Linked DNA regions of Homo sapiens. The protein of the gene in region 3 purifies or fractionates together with the protein of the main gene of each other region. This does not show direct contact. Each region holds a gene or a part of one and is shown on either strand. Other genes may lie near its edges.

What was found. Proteins that work in one complex are often made in the same cells at the same time.
Region 1: the proteins of OLFML2B (region 3) and TNC purify together in Homo sapiens (co-immunoprecipitation; one large-scale study listed by IntAct). This does not show direct contact.
Region 2: the proteins of OLFML2B (region 3) and SIL1 purify together in Homo sapiens (co-immunoprecipitation; one large-scale study listed by IntAct). This does not show direct contact.

The regions. Positions count from the first base shown.
Region 1 is NC_000009.12:115,115,313-115,119,740, reverse strand, and holds the start of TNC (tenascin isoform 1 precursor), read left to right. Parts: upstream 1-1,583; 5' UTR 1,584-1,759; intron 1,760-3,217; exon of another isoform or gene 3,218-4,428. UniProt on the Homo sapiens protein: Extracellular matrix protein implicated in guidance of migrating neurons as well as axons during development, synaptic plasticity as well as neuronal regeneration. Promotes neurite outgrowth from cortical neurons grown on a monolayer of astrocytes.
Region 2 is NC_000005.10:139,020,324-139,024,071, reverse strand, and holds part of SIL1 (nucleotide exchange factor SIL1 precursor), read left to right. Parts: intron 1-2,779; coding exon 2,780-2,901; intron 2,902-3,748.
Region 3 is NC_000001.11:162,020,867-162,025,364, forward strand, and holds the start of OLFML2B (olfactomedin-like protein 2B isoform 2 precursor), read right to left. Parts: upstream 3,004-4,498; 5' UTR 2,565-3,003; coding exon 2,391-2,564; intron 1-2,390.

The sequences.
Region 1 (4,428 bases), on a different chromosome or scaffold from region 3:
ATGACCTAATCGTGTCTTGCTTTTTTTTTCAGATGGGGAAACTGAGGCCCACAGCAACAATAATAACTGTGGGGATGATATCATTTAATATTGAAAATAAGTGGATAATTGAGACCTCCATTATTAGTAGTTAATTTTTAAAAATCAAAGATCTCTCCTAATTAGCTTTATGGAGCAAATAAATATATTTTCCATATTCAAATATGGCTGTGATTTCTACACAAATGGTGTTAACAATCTAATACAGCATAAAACATTGTTTAAATATCATCATACCCTATTCCTAAACAGTAACGTGTAATAGATCTCTGGAGCCCAGTGTTGTAATATAAACACTTCCCAGGTGTATTCCCTTGGTAAAGTTTCATTACTTCTCTAAACGTCAGTTTTCTTGTGTAAAAAAGAGACACTTGTGTCTATCCTACTTACTGGTTACAAGGATATAATAAAAATAGTGAACAAAAATAGTGTTCATAAAGTACCCTGCACAGCACCTGATTATAGACTTAATAAGGGAGGGCTCAATGGTAGTTGCGTTTTGAATTACATTTAATGCTTCATTTTACTTCACTGTCACAAACTACTATGCTCTGCGGCAGGCTCAGAAGTCTCTAGGCACGGGTGAAGTGCTACTTCTCCACTCCCTTAAATGCCCCTGTATGCCCTGAGGATACTCAATGCATGCTAACCACCAAACGAACGGATGACTCAGAGCTTGGAGGAAATCCACGGCAGGCTGGAAAGCAAAGGCGCAGCTTATGGCTCAAGGATTAGGTTGTTACCTTTTTAAATTATTGCTTTTCTTTAAAGAAAGGGCTGTGGGGGACGCCTTTCAGCACTAAGAGAAAACCTCAGAAATCCTTCCCCCTGGAGACCCAGCTGAGAAGACCACACCAGGCACAGGGCATGAACAATGTCAAAAAGCTACTGCCCTGCAGGACACTGGGGCTGGAACAAAGATGCCTCCCAGCAGCTGGGCAAGGCTGGCTCCCACACAAGAAAAGCAGGGCTGATGTGAGCGTCCCGCACGATCCCCACCTGCTGAGACCTAATCCTGGGTTATCTCTCCGCTGGCCCAGAGAAACCTGAAACCCCCCAGGCTTTTGAAGGGCTTTATCTCCTCTTTCCAGGAACTGGGCTCAGTCCCTGTACTCGCTCCGAGGTGCCACTGAGCAGCTGCTGCCCAGAGCCCAGGCGAGCCCTGGTCCCATTTCCAGCTTGACCAAGTACAAGAGGGGAGCCAGGGCTGCGGATCCTACTCCCTCTTGCTCCCCAGGCATCCGTCTCACAATTAGAAAACCCGTGTGGGGAGCAAAGCAAAAATCACATTTCACTAACAGCTACTCGGGGTCGGGGGCGGGCAGGCGGGAATTCCTACTTTCGCCATAAATTGTATGCAAATGGGTTCCTTCCCTGGCCGAGAGCCAGGAGTGAGTGCGTCTTTCATGAGCTAACCCTGTTCCGCTGGGAGGGCTGTTCCTTTAATTCGCCAACTGAAAAAGTGGGAAAGGATGTCTGGAGGCGAGGCGTCCCATTACAGAGGAAGGAGCTCGCTATATAAGCCAGCCAAAGTTGGCTGCACCGGCCACAGCCTGCCTACTGTCACCCGCCTCTCCCGCGCGCAGATACACGCCCCCGCCTCCGTGGGCACAAAGGCAGCGCTGCTGGGGAACTCGGGGGAACGCGCACGTGGGAACCGCCGCAGCTCCACACTCCAGGTACTTCTTCCAAGGACCTAGGTCTCTCGCCCATCGGAAAGGTAAGTCTGTTTTGCCCTCATCACTAGAGATCCTTATGATGTAAGGATTGCATTCCTGGTACCAAATGAGTTGTGATTTTATATTATAATTACAAAACATATGGGGTTTTTTTTTCCACCGCTGGAAAAAAAAGGAGTGTGTATTGGTTATATCAGATGCACCTTGACTTTTCTGGTCTTGTAATTTTGTTTGTTTTAACTTTATGAATAGTCAGACTTGGAAGGAACTTTTCGTAAAGTTGTTATCTTCTGCTGTTCTGCAGAGGAAAAGTAAAAATTTTCTCTTCAACTGCTCTCCTACTTCTAGTCTGGCTGATTCACCTGTATATATCTTTTATTTTGAGGGTTAGGGCAGTAGAGTTTTAAGGCAGACTTTGCTCATAGCCTGCCCCTGGGATGGGTTAGAGGGAGTTTGATAGAGGAGTGCAGGGAGAATATAAAAGTTTATATCTAAACAGCACTTACATAAAGTTTACAAAGAGTTTTGTACCCATTCCCTCATTTGGTCCTCAAAATATTCACCCTGGAAATGAGAGCTGGGGGACAGAAGAGAGGAGGTGGCTCCTGGGCCAGATGAATAACTGACAGGCAGCTAGAGAGTGGTGGAGAACAGCTTTACTGGGGTGCCTAGAGCCAGCAGCGTCCCACATGTCTCTAGAATCACCTCCTCCTCCTCACCTCTCATCACAGAAAGATCTGAGCAACAACATCCCCCAGGTATGGGAACCCTGCTGCCCCTGGTGTACTTTGGAAAGAACACAGGGGTTCTTCTCACCCATCAGTGTTGTAAGAGGAATAAGAGCTTAGGTTTGAAGCCAGAGGTGTTTGGTATTCTCCCCACCACCATACATATGACCCTGAGAAAGATACATCACTTCCTTAATCCTCAGTTTTCACATCTCTAAAATGGGGACAATAGCGTCTGCTGTCGTTTTGAGGAGAAAATGAGGTATAGAAAGATCAGCAATGACTGCTTAATAACTGGAAGTTTGGATAATCATTGTCATTGCCAAAAACTGCCATCACTCTGGAAGTTAAAAGAGGCATTGAGCCAGTCTTGGATTGTTTCTTGTGTGTTGTTCCTCAGCCCGCCCCCAGCCCCCGCTTTTTATCTCACCCAATCTGAGGGTGTCTCACTAGGCTGGCAGGTCTGAGACTTGGCTGTATTTTACAAGCAGGAGGTTGTGTTGGCACAGGTTGGAGAAAAGGTAGTAGCCCGGGGCTGGAAGTTAATGTCAAATTTTGATTCCAGAATGTCAGGAGGTTTTGAGTTTAGGCATCTGCAGATTCTAAAGCTGACAGCTATGAAGTACGATGCTGTTGGAAACTCTTTGGAAAAGCTTTCTGTCCGGAGGGAGGGCAGGACAGGGAGCACCACTTGAAGAATGAATGCCTCTTTTTCATGTTTTTGTAGACTTTTTCCCCCATTTTTACAGAGCTTTCCCATATGTGTTTTAGAAAGGAAAACTACTATCCATCCCAGCCAGGCAAGCCCAATTCAGGACTGAAGAAGATTTATTCAGTCCTAGACAACCAAGTGAAGAGTTTCTGGCTTTGTGCGCATACAAGTCATTTGCAGGAGATGTAAGTCAGCGTGCTTTGGCCCTTGCATTTCAGGAAGGTGACTGCTTTGTGGGGAAGAAAAAGGTGCACAATATGAGTATTCTCTGGTTTGCTCAAACAGGGTAAATTGGACAAGGATTGAAAGGGATGTTGCCAAGCTCTACAGTCATTAAATATTTTTTTCCTCTATGCTTTGTTTTAAAAACCTAGCTTCTCTATTTTATCCCACACTAACCTCCTCCTTCCCCACTCTAAGAAGTGACTAACGTTTCAGCCCTCAACTTTGTCATTCATATAATGGAGATGACAAACTATGTCTCACAGGGCTCTTGCAACATTCAAATGAGGTAATATATGGCAAACACTTGGCATAGTACCTTCCACATATTAAGGGTTCAATAAATGGAAACTTTTCTTAGTTTCTCTGTTTATCATTTTACAAGGACTTGTCCAAGATTAATATTCTAAGATCATGATTTTTAAACTTATTTTTAATGATGAAAATATTCATTACATGAATTTAGGGCAAACCCCCAGTATATGACAGGTAAATGCAGGGCTGCTTTGGTTGAAGTGGGGTCACAAGGTCTAAAACTTACACCTTTGCTCTTAGCCTCTGGGACATTGCCACAGAATCTTCAATGACAAAAAGCACATTTACAAATCATGAAACCAGGCTGTGTGCATTCTGGTTGCCATTCTGCCCTTCAACAAGGATTTTTGCCCCTCTGAGTCACCATCTGTAGCAGAAGTAAGAGCAAGTCCACAAATAGTGTAATAGACAGGAATATGAATGAGAAATAAAAGACTTAACAAAGGCTATTTTAATTAATTCTAATGACAATGATAGCCAAAATATATGATGAGCCTACTCTCTAAACTGTAGGCTTTTGTGGGATCATCCACAGCATGTCTCTGAGGTATGGACTATATTTGTTGGACAAAGAGATGGCTTCAAGAACAGGGAGACTGAATAACTTTACCAAGGTCCTAGAACTCAGAGTGATACAGCCAGGTTTCACACCCAGGTCCCCGTGATCACCAAGTCAGAGGTACATTCTGCCGTGTTCCTTCTGAATGCTTCTCTGCTTCTTGCCTGCCTTTAG
Region 2 (3,748 bases), on a different chromosome or scaffold from region 3:
TAGCATTGCCCCAACAAAGTTCTTTGTTTTCCCTTGTAGGCTCTTTGTCACTTGGCAGTGTCTTCCCTAAGGTGACATCCCCATTCTGCTTTCACAGGCCACCTCACCAGACCCATCCTGAGGTCATCCCAAAATCAGTCCCTGGCAGAAGCCAAATTTGTCTGTTGGCAGAGAAATGTTCTGGATCATTGGTGTTTTGACTGGAAGGGCTGGTGCATCAGGCTGCCATGCAGCAATGTTAAGCTGTGATTTCACTGGGGGATTAAGTAAGACACAACTCGGCCCGAGTCCCAGTTGTGATGGGGGCTTGGGGTGATGTAGTACTAGTTTTAAGGAAGATGGCACTTTCCTAGCCAGGAACTTCCCCAGTCCTTTCTCATTCCAGACTCACTGAATGGTGGTTTGAGGAGCTGTAGGCTCCAAGGACCCAAACCAGGTCTGCCAGGCTTCCTCACAGCCATATTTGAATTATTAAACAGGATATGTGAAAAGCAAAACCTTGTGTGTGGAAACAGATGGTGAGTTATTTATGAGGAGCGGCCTCCGTCCGCCCCATCTACCTCGGGCAGTACATTTGCCTTCTCCCACGTGTCTCCTCAGCTGTGTGCCACCATTTTTCCCCTTCGCTGTTTCCCATTCTCTCATTGTCTTATCAGTGCCCTGCTTCTTTCCTTTCCTCCAGGGTGTTGGCATAGTTCCCTCCTGCACTCCCTCCTCCTCTTCCTCTCTGCCTGTCCCACCCCACCCCGAAGGCAGCCTGAGAACAGTTTTGGCCCCAGACCGAGATGGGGAGCTGTGGACCTGGGCTATGGTCATGGTTTCTCCTGTATGTCACCAGGGGGGGGCCCAGCTTTTGATGTGCACTGGGCAGAATGAATCGTTTCTTCCTCACTGTTAGTGAAGTAAACCATGAGAAAACATCCCAAAAAGGCTGAAGTGCTTATATAAATGTCTGCATTTCTATCATGCTGAATTATCATTGTAGTAATAGTAGATAAACTGACTCTAGAACAGAAGGTCCATGATTCTGGGCTGTGTTGCTTTGGAGCTGACCGAGTGGCAGCTGCTCTGCTAGGAACTCATACCAGCTTTATAAGTGGCCATTCCAGGCGTGGTATGACAGGATTCTGAGCCATAGTTTTGTATCCAGAAAACCCAGAGGAAGGACAACCAAAGAATAGGTAGTGAATTCTTACATTGTAAAATTAGAGCATGTAGGGAAGGAAGGAAGGTGCTTATGTCAGCAAAGCACCCAACCCTGAGTCTCCCTAGTTAGCTGGGCTGTGGCTCAACCAGTTATTCCTCTTCATAAGAACAGTTTGGGGCAGAAAAATGTCCATGGCCTGGGGCCACATGGCAGAGCAGACTTCATGCTTACTTCACAACCTGGTTTAGCCATTACTTCATGTCTGCGGTACCAGAGGCCCATTCATTTTGTTGGCACAGATACCCCAGATTGCCTTTTTATTCACACTGGAGCTTTATTTCAGGAACATTCTTTTCTGATCAAATTCATACTCATTAATGCAACAGTTATTCATTGAACACCTAACCATATGCTCAGCACCATCCTAGTCCCTGGAGCTACAAGCGTGGACAGACAGACAAAACCCCTGCTGTCATGGAGATTCCATCCAAATGTGTATGAATATGATTTTTCAAGTGGCAACAACAGGCTAGGCCACCACAAAACACTAGCACAGTCAAATACCAATCCTCACACTTGATTTCTCTGTCAGAGTCCTCTCCTAGTTCAGAGAGGCAAGGATGCAGTTGGGAAGGGGCCCTGTGGAATCTGGAGGAGAAAGATGGGTAGCAGCCACAGTTGTTGGGCTTCAGCTTCCTGAGTTTTCCTCATGATTGATAGCGTGGGATTAGCATATGGGCAAGATGCAGCCTTTGTGGCAACAAAGATATATTCGAGGGAGACTGTAGCGGGTACATGTAGAAAACAGGATCCAGTGACCTTTCTGAGGAAAGCGAGTTGTCTTGTTCCAGGGTACTAATAAACTGTGGGTAATGAGATCCGCTATAGAGTAAAAGAGAGAATCCGGACTTGGGGATTTGGAGCTTAAATGATAGCCTAGACCAATGCTGTTGAATAGAACTTTATGTAATGATAGAAATGTTCTGCACTGTCTGATACATAGCCACTAGCCAGTAGCACAGGCTTAGACAGAAACCTTTGGGAGAGCGATTTTCTTGCATATTTTATCATGAATGTCTTCAGATGCAGTCAACCTGAGATGCAAGAGAAAGGTACTATTGTTATTCCCCCCTCCCCAGCACTCTTACGGCAACCCCCCTCCCAATAACAGGGCTCCTTTTATAGTCCCTAGCTTCTAATTTAAAATCAGCTTTAAAAATCTGCCTCCACTGTCCCCATTGGGATTGGACATCAGCAGGAAGCATGGCACCATTTAGTGGTGCTGATGACGCCAGATTCTTTGTGTTAACAGCTTGTACATTAGGAGCAAGCTTTGTGACTCATTATGATATTAGAATTTTCCAGGACATGTTTGGCATAAGCAATAGCTAGGTGTCATTTCTGCTGATTCCCACGCAGGTGCTCATCAATCGTGTTAGATGAATTAGGAGTTCTCAAATTTAAGAGTATTAAAAAATTGGTTTTTACAAACCTTTTCTTAGTCAAAAAGGCCATTATTGATTTTTCCATGGCTTTTTAATTTGTTTTTGGGTAGTCACCAAAAGAAAGGCTCTAAGAACAGCTTTCCTGTCCCTGATGGCTATGCTGTACTAAGCAGTGGCTCTGTTGCAGATGGACAATGCGCAGGACCTGCTTTCCTTTGGTGGTCTTCAAGTGGTGATCAATGGGCTGAACAGCACAGAGCCCCTCGTGAAGGAGTATGCTGCGTTTGTGCTGGGCGCTGCCTTTTCCAGGTGAGCAGTATAATGGACGTCCCAATGGCCAGAATTGCTTGGCCTGATCTGCTTGGAAGAAGGGTACACTTGAATGTGCCTGTTGCTACTGACATTTCAGTGTCATCTCAATGAAACTAGAGTAAAATTTGATTCTGCCCTTATTCCAAGTAGATAGGAATTTTTACCCATGTTGTCACCATCTGTGACTCTCTGTTCCCCCATCTTATGTGTATGGACATTTAATAACACATCTTAGGTCACATTCTCTGTTTTATTCAAAGCTTGTAAAAAGTTAGACCAACTATAAATAGTAGAGAGGGAGGGGAATAAACAAGAGTAGGTCTTTTGGCAGTAAAGCTACATCTAGTGACGAATAAATGATGAGCCTGACCAAGGGGGTGCTTTCAGGGAGGAATGTGTCTTGCCCTAGTTGTCTGGAACCAATGTACATGCCGTCAGATTATCGCCCTCTCTAGGTTGGAAATTGTTGAGAATTTCAGTTAGTCTGGCTTGTGATGGAAGACTGATAAGGCAAGAGGAGTGGGGAGGTAGCATCTCGAAAGAGTAGATGCCAAAAGATATGTAGGCACCACATCATTCTACACCACCTGCAAAGGTCAAGATATCTGCATGCTGCAATTGGTCCATTGGAGCTATTGTTCCTCCCATTTTTGAAAATCTGCTCTTAGGACCATTTGTGCCTTTAAAACAGGAACAAATATTCTGATTCTTGCTGCAAGGGCATGGGTGGAGGCTATTAGATGCTTAGATGCAGGTCACGATGTTACAGGAGAAAAGCTATTCTGAACATATTTACCATTATAGGCTTTGTTTCGAGAAGATTTCCTTTGTGCTTTATCTGTGC
Region 3 (4,498 bases):
AGTTGGTATTCAAGTTTGAAGACTACTGGCATCTCTCATTCATTTATTCAACATTTATGGAGTGCCTACTAAGGACTGTGAGGTGCTGTGAAGGATAAAGAGATGGGCCAGATGGAGAGCCTGCTCTCAAGAAGCCTACAGTGCAGGAGGCATAGAAATAGCAGTCACACAGAGTACAGAGTGATAAGTGCCCCCGAAGAGGCAGAGGGAAAGGGCAGTGGGAGCTAAGAGCGGCTCCAACTGGAAGCCAGGGAAGACTTCTTCGAGGAGTGGCATTTAATCTGGGCCTTGAAGGATGGGTTAGATGTGGAGAAAGGGAATTGAGAGGAAAGAGGCAGGTCCAGAAGTTAGTAAGGTTTACTCAGTCTAAGAGTTCATGCTTCTGAACCTAAACCCCAGGCCAAACCCAGGAAAGCAAACTGGCAGCACTTGCTGCTTTTGCAATGCTAAACATTTCCTTCTGGGCACTTGCCCCTGCCAGCCTCCCCAGGCAGGAAAACACGCGACAGTAGGCTTTCTGGAGCCCCAACTCTGGGCGCTTGCTGGGAAAAGGCTCTTCTCTCCCAATCCTCTCCAAAAGGCCCTACATCCCCAAAGCCAGGGCTCCCTTCCTAGGCAGGCAGAAGGGTTCCCTTCATTTGATTAATGATTTCAGTGGGCAAGCATTGAGCTTGTTTGAGTAGAAATGTTCCTTGGGATGCTGTCTGGGGGAAGAAGACTTGTAATGTTTTCCTTGCAAAGATTGGGTTTCTTCTAATACTAATATTTGCTTTAGGGCTGTTGTCAAACACAGAATGGATCAGTGGAAGAAGGTGGTGTAGTTAAGGGTGACTTAAGCGGCTGTTCTTTACGGGCTGATAGTAAATTGTGGCTGTCTGCTCTCTGAAACTCTGCCTGGATTCCTACATAACCCTGCTCTGAGAACCCTGGGTGGATTCCTTCCTTACAGGAGGCTCGGGTTTCAGGAAAGTTTTTGTTGATAGTGTTCCAGAGCCCCAGTGTGAGAGATTTTTATGTCTTTTCGATTTAGGGGTCAGTGGGAGGTAATGGGGGGGCAGAGGGCATACATTAGCATCATTATTAAAGGAAGAGTGAGGAGGCTAGTGTTTGATAAATCCCAAAGTGCAGCTGATTATTCTCTCTACAGGAAGGAGACAAGGCCCAGTCCTAGGGCTTGGTGGAGGTGAAGGTACAGGCAGCCCTGGAGGATCCTTTTTCAGACATCCCCCATTCTGAGGATTCTGGTGACACCCACCACACGTCATCATGCCGGCTCTGGAGAGCACAAAATAAACACTCCAGAGAGAACTACCCCTTACAGACATGAGATCTGGGCTGAAGACTGTCAGACGCCCTGGCTCTACCCATGTATCTCTTCTTTTTTTTTTTTTTTTTTTTTTTTGAGACGGAGTCTCACTCTGTCACTCAGGATGGAGTGCAGTGGCGCGATCTCCGCTTACTGCAACCTCCACCTCCCGGGTTCAAGCGATTCTCCTGCCTCAGCCTCCTGAGTAGCTGGGACTACAGGTGCCTGCCACCACGCCTGGCTAATTTTGGTATTTTTAGTAGAGATGGGGTTTCATCATATTGGCCAGGCTGCTCTTGAACTCCTGACCTCGTGATCTGCCCGCCTCGGCCTCCCAAAGTGCTGGGATTACAGGCGTGAGCCACCGCGCCCGGCCTACCCATGTATCTCTTATGGTCTTTATCTATAAATGGGTATTAGGGTGTTTTGAAGATTGAGTCAGAAAAAACAAGTTTAAGTACTTGGTAAACGGACACTTTACGAAGCCCATCACTATCATGGGTTACTCGGGCCCCCACTGACAGTCTGCCCTAGCTGCCTGCATCTGCATTCCCACTCTCCCCTCCCAGTACACTCCGTCATGTTCTCAGTCTCTCTGTTTGGGGGTCACCTCACATTCATCACACATGCTTCTGTTCTGACTTCACCCCATGCTCCCGCCTGGTGTCCCACCCTCTGCCATAAAGTATCTCCCGATGGGATATGCCATCTGCCTCCTGGTCAACATATCCGGCTGTTTTCACATTCCAATTCTGACAGACAGCCACATAGACAAGAGATACTTTTTACAACCCTGAAACCAAAAACAACTTTGTTTTCTTTCTTCTCAAGAAGTCGAGCGGCATCTTCCCTTCCTTCACCTCTCCTTTCTCCTGATTTGATGACCTTTAAGCACCCTATGATTTTGCGAGGAGAACCTATATCCTTCCATTAAGAAAATATTCCGATACATGAAAAATCAAAAGCCCTTTCCATTGGTAATGGAAGGAAAAACAGCTGCCCTCAAACACTTCAGCAAGGACCAGCTTCTGGCTCTCACCACCATCCAGGGCAAGAAGGGCGGTCGTGGCACTCTGCATCCTACCTGAGATAAAACGTTCTCCTGGTTGTCCGCCTCGTTTTGCAGAGTCTCGTCCTCCGCAGGCGCCACTGTCTGCGCATCTGGGGGCTCGCTTGTCCCTGTGAGGACAATGCTGGACACCCAGGCCGGAACCACAATCAGAGCGAAGTAGAGAACTAGCAGCCGAGGCTTGGCCATGAGGGGCGCGATAAGAGTGTCCTCAGCCCCTTCAGAGAATGGCTGGGGCGGGGGGTCTCGGCAAGGACTTCTGCGAGAGGGTGTCCTCGCTAGAGCCCGAAAGTGGCTGCTGAGAGCACCTTCTAAAGCTGGGTGCGGCTGAGCGGGACGGGAGGGTGCGCCCCAGAGACTCTGGGCATCTCCTTCCCGACGCGAGCAGCCCTCGACTGTGCAGCCCCAGTGGAGAGCCGGACGCAAGGAAGAGGGGATGACGGAGAAGGTGGAGGCGGGCACGGGCTAGCTGAGCGAGTCGCCCGCAGGAGGGCTCAGGTGGCTGGAAGGCGTTCGGACAGACGCCCGCGGTGCGCGCCGGGACGGGCGGCGGGGAGCCTCGGGACGCACGGGGACCGGACACGGGGAGGGAAGAGGCGGTGGCGGCGCGGGCTGCTGGGCGAGGGCTGCTGGGCTAGGGAGCCGCGGAGAGCTCGCGCGGAAGGAGGGCGGAGCCTCTATTGTGCCGGGGCGGCGGAGATGCAGCCAGTGACCGCGCGGAGGAGGAGGACCTGGAAGCGCACAGGGCTCGGGCGGAGGGGTACCCGGCGGACCCCGTCCCCGCTGGGACTCAGCTGCCGCGCGCCGGCTGAGGGTGACGTTGGAAGGGCTTTACTTTCTTCTCATCTGATCGCAAGTGAGTGAAGAGAAGTTACTCCGAGCGGCGTCCCTGAAGTTTTGGGGTTCGACCATTCTTGGCGAGAAGAGCGACTTTCCATCGCAGGCACCCAGCGCTCGCTCCAAGGCTGAGCTAGTTAGGGATCTGCGGCATCGTCCTTTAGCACACCTGGGGCAGGGGAGAAGGCGCGTTTGTTCCCAGGCGTTTCTTTTCCCTGACTTAACTCTGGGCGAGTTCTCGGGCAGCTTTGAACTTAGCGCCGTTGGTAGCTGCTTGCCTGCCACGGCTTTAGAACCTAGTAATACCTCCACCCAGAGGAAAATCATTGAATTCCTTCCTAGAGTGTGTCCTGAGTTGTGTAAACGTTGAAAGTTAGGGGAATGACTGTACATCTCCGACACTCTCCGCGAGTCCCCATGGGGAAAGCTACTGCCTGATAAATGATTACCAAAGGGAACAGCTCTTCCTGTCTTCCTGGTTTGGGACAAATCTCCGGGTCTCTGTTACCAGATTATCTCTAAGAGGGAGTCCACTTTCAATAGTGTGCAATTATGTTACTATGTCCCTCAATTACTGAGGACAACCTTTTATAAACCTACAGTGAAGATTACCAATATGTGAATTTAAGGAAGGGCACTGTGCCATCCTGGACAACTGTCACTCGGAATATTGAACAGAGCCAGGCCCCTTCAAAGGATATTATGCACCCTTGGGAAATTCAAACACCTTGCTTCTTATGCTGAGGAATAAGGGTTGTAATAAACTAAGGAAACTAGCGCATATAAGTAATAGTTGACATAAGTATAATAATAACCCTTATTAGTATATTTTAATCTTCAAAAAATTCAGTTTATGGACAAAAATTCAATGCTCTGGGTGTCTAGGTTTGTGGGGACATCATGCACACACCCTCCTCTGTGTAAGCTATCAAATCTTTTCTGAAACTATATGGGGGTAAACATTGATAAAATGTGGTGTATTTGATTGTTTGTTTGAGACAGAGTCTTGCTCTGCCACCCAGGCTGGAGTGCAGTGGCGGGATGATCTTGGCTCACTGCAACCTCCGCCTCCTGGGTTCAAGTGATTCTCGTGCCTCGACCTTCAGAGTACCTGGGATTACAGGCGCACGCCACCATGCCCGTTTAATTTTTTGTATTTTTACTAGAGTTGGGGTTTCGCCGTGTTGCCAGGCTGGTCTCGACCTCCTGGCCTCAAGCCATCCATCCGCCTTGCCCTCCCAAAGCACTGGGATTACAGGGGTGAGCCACTGTGCCCCACCGATAAA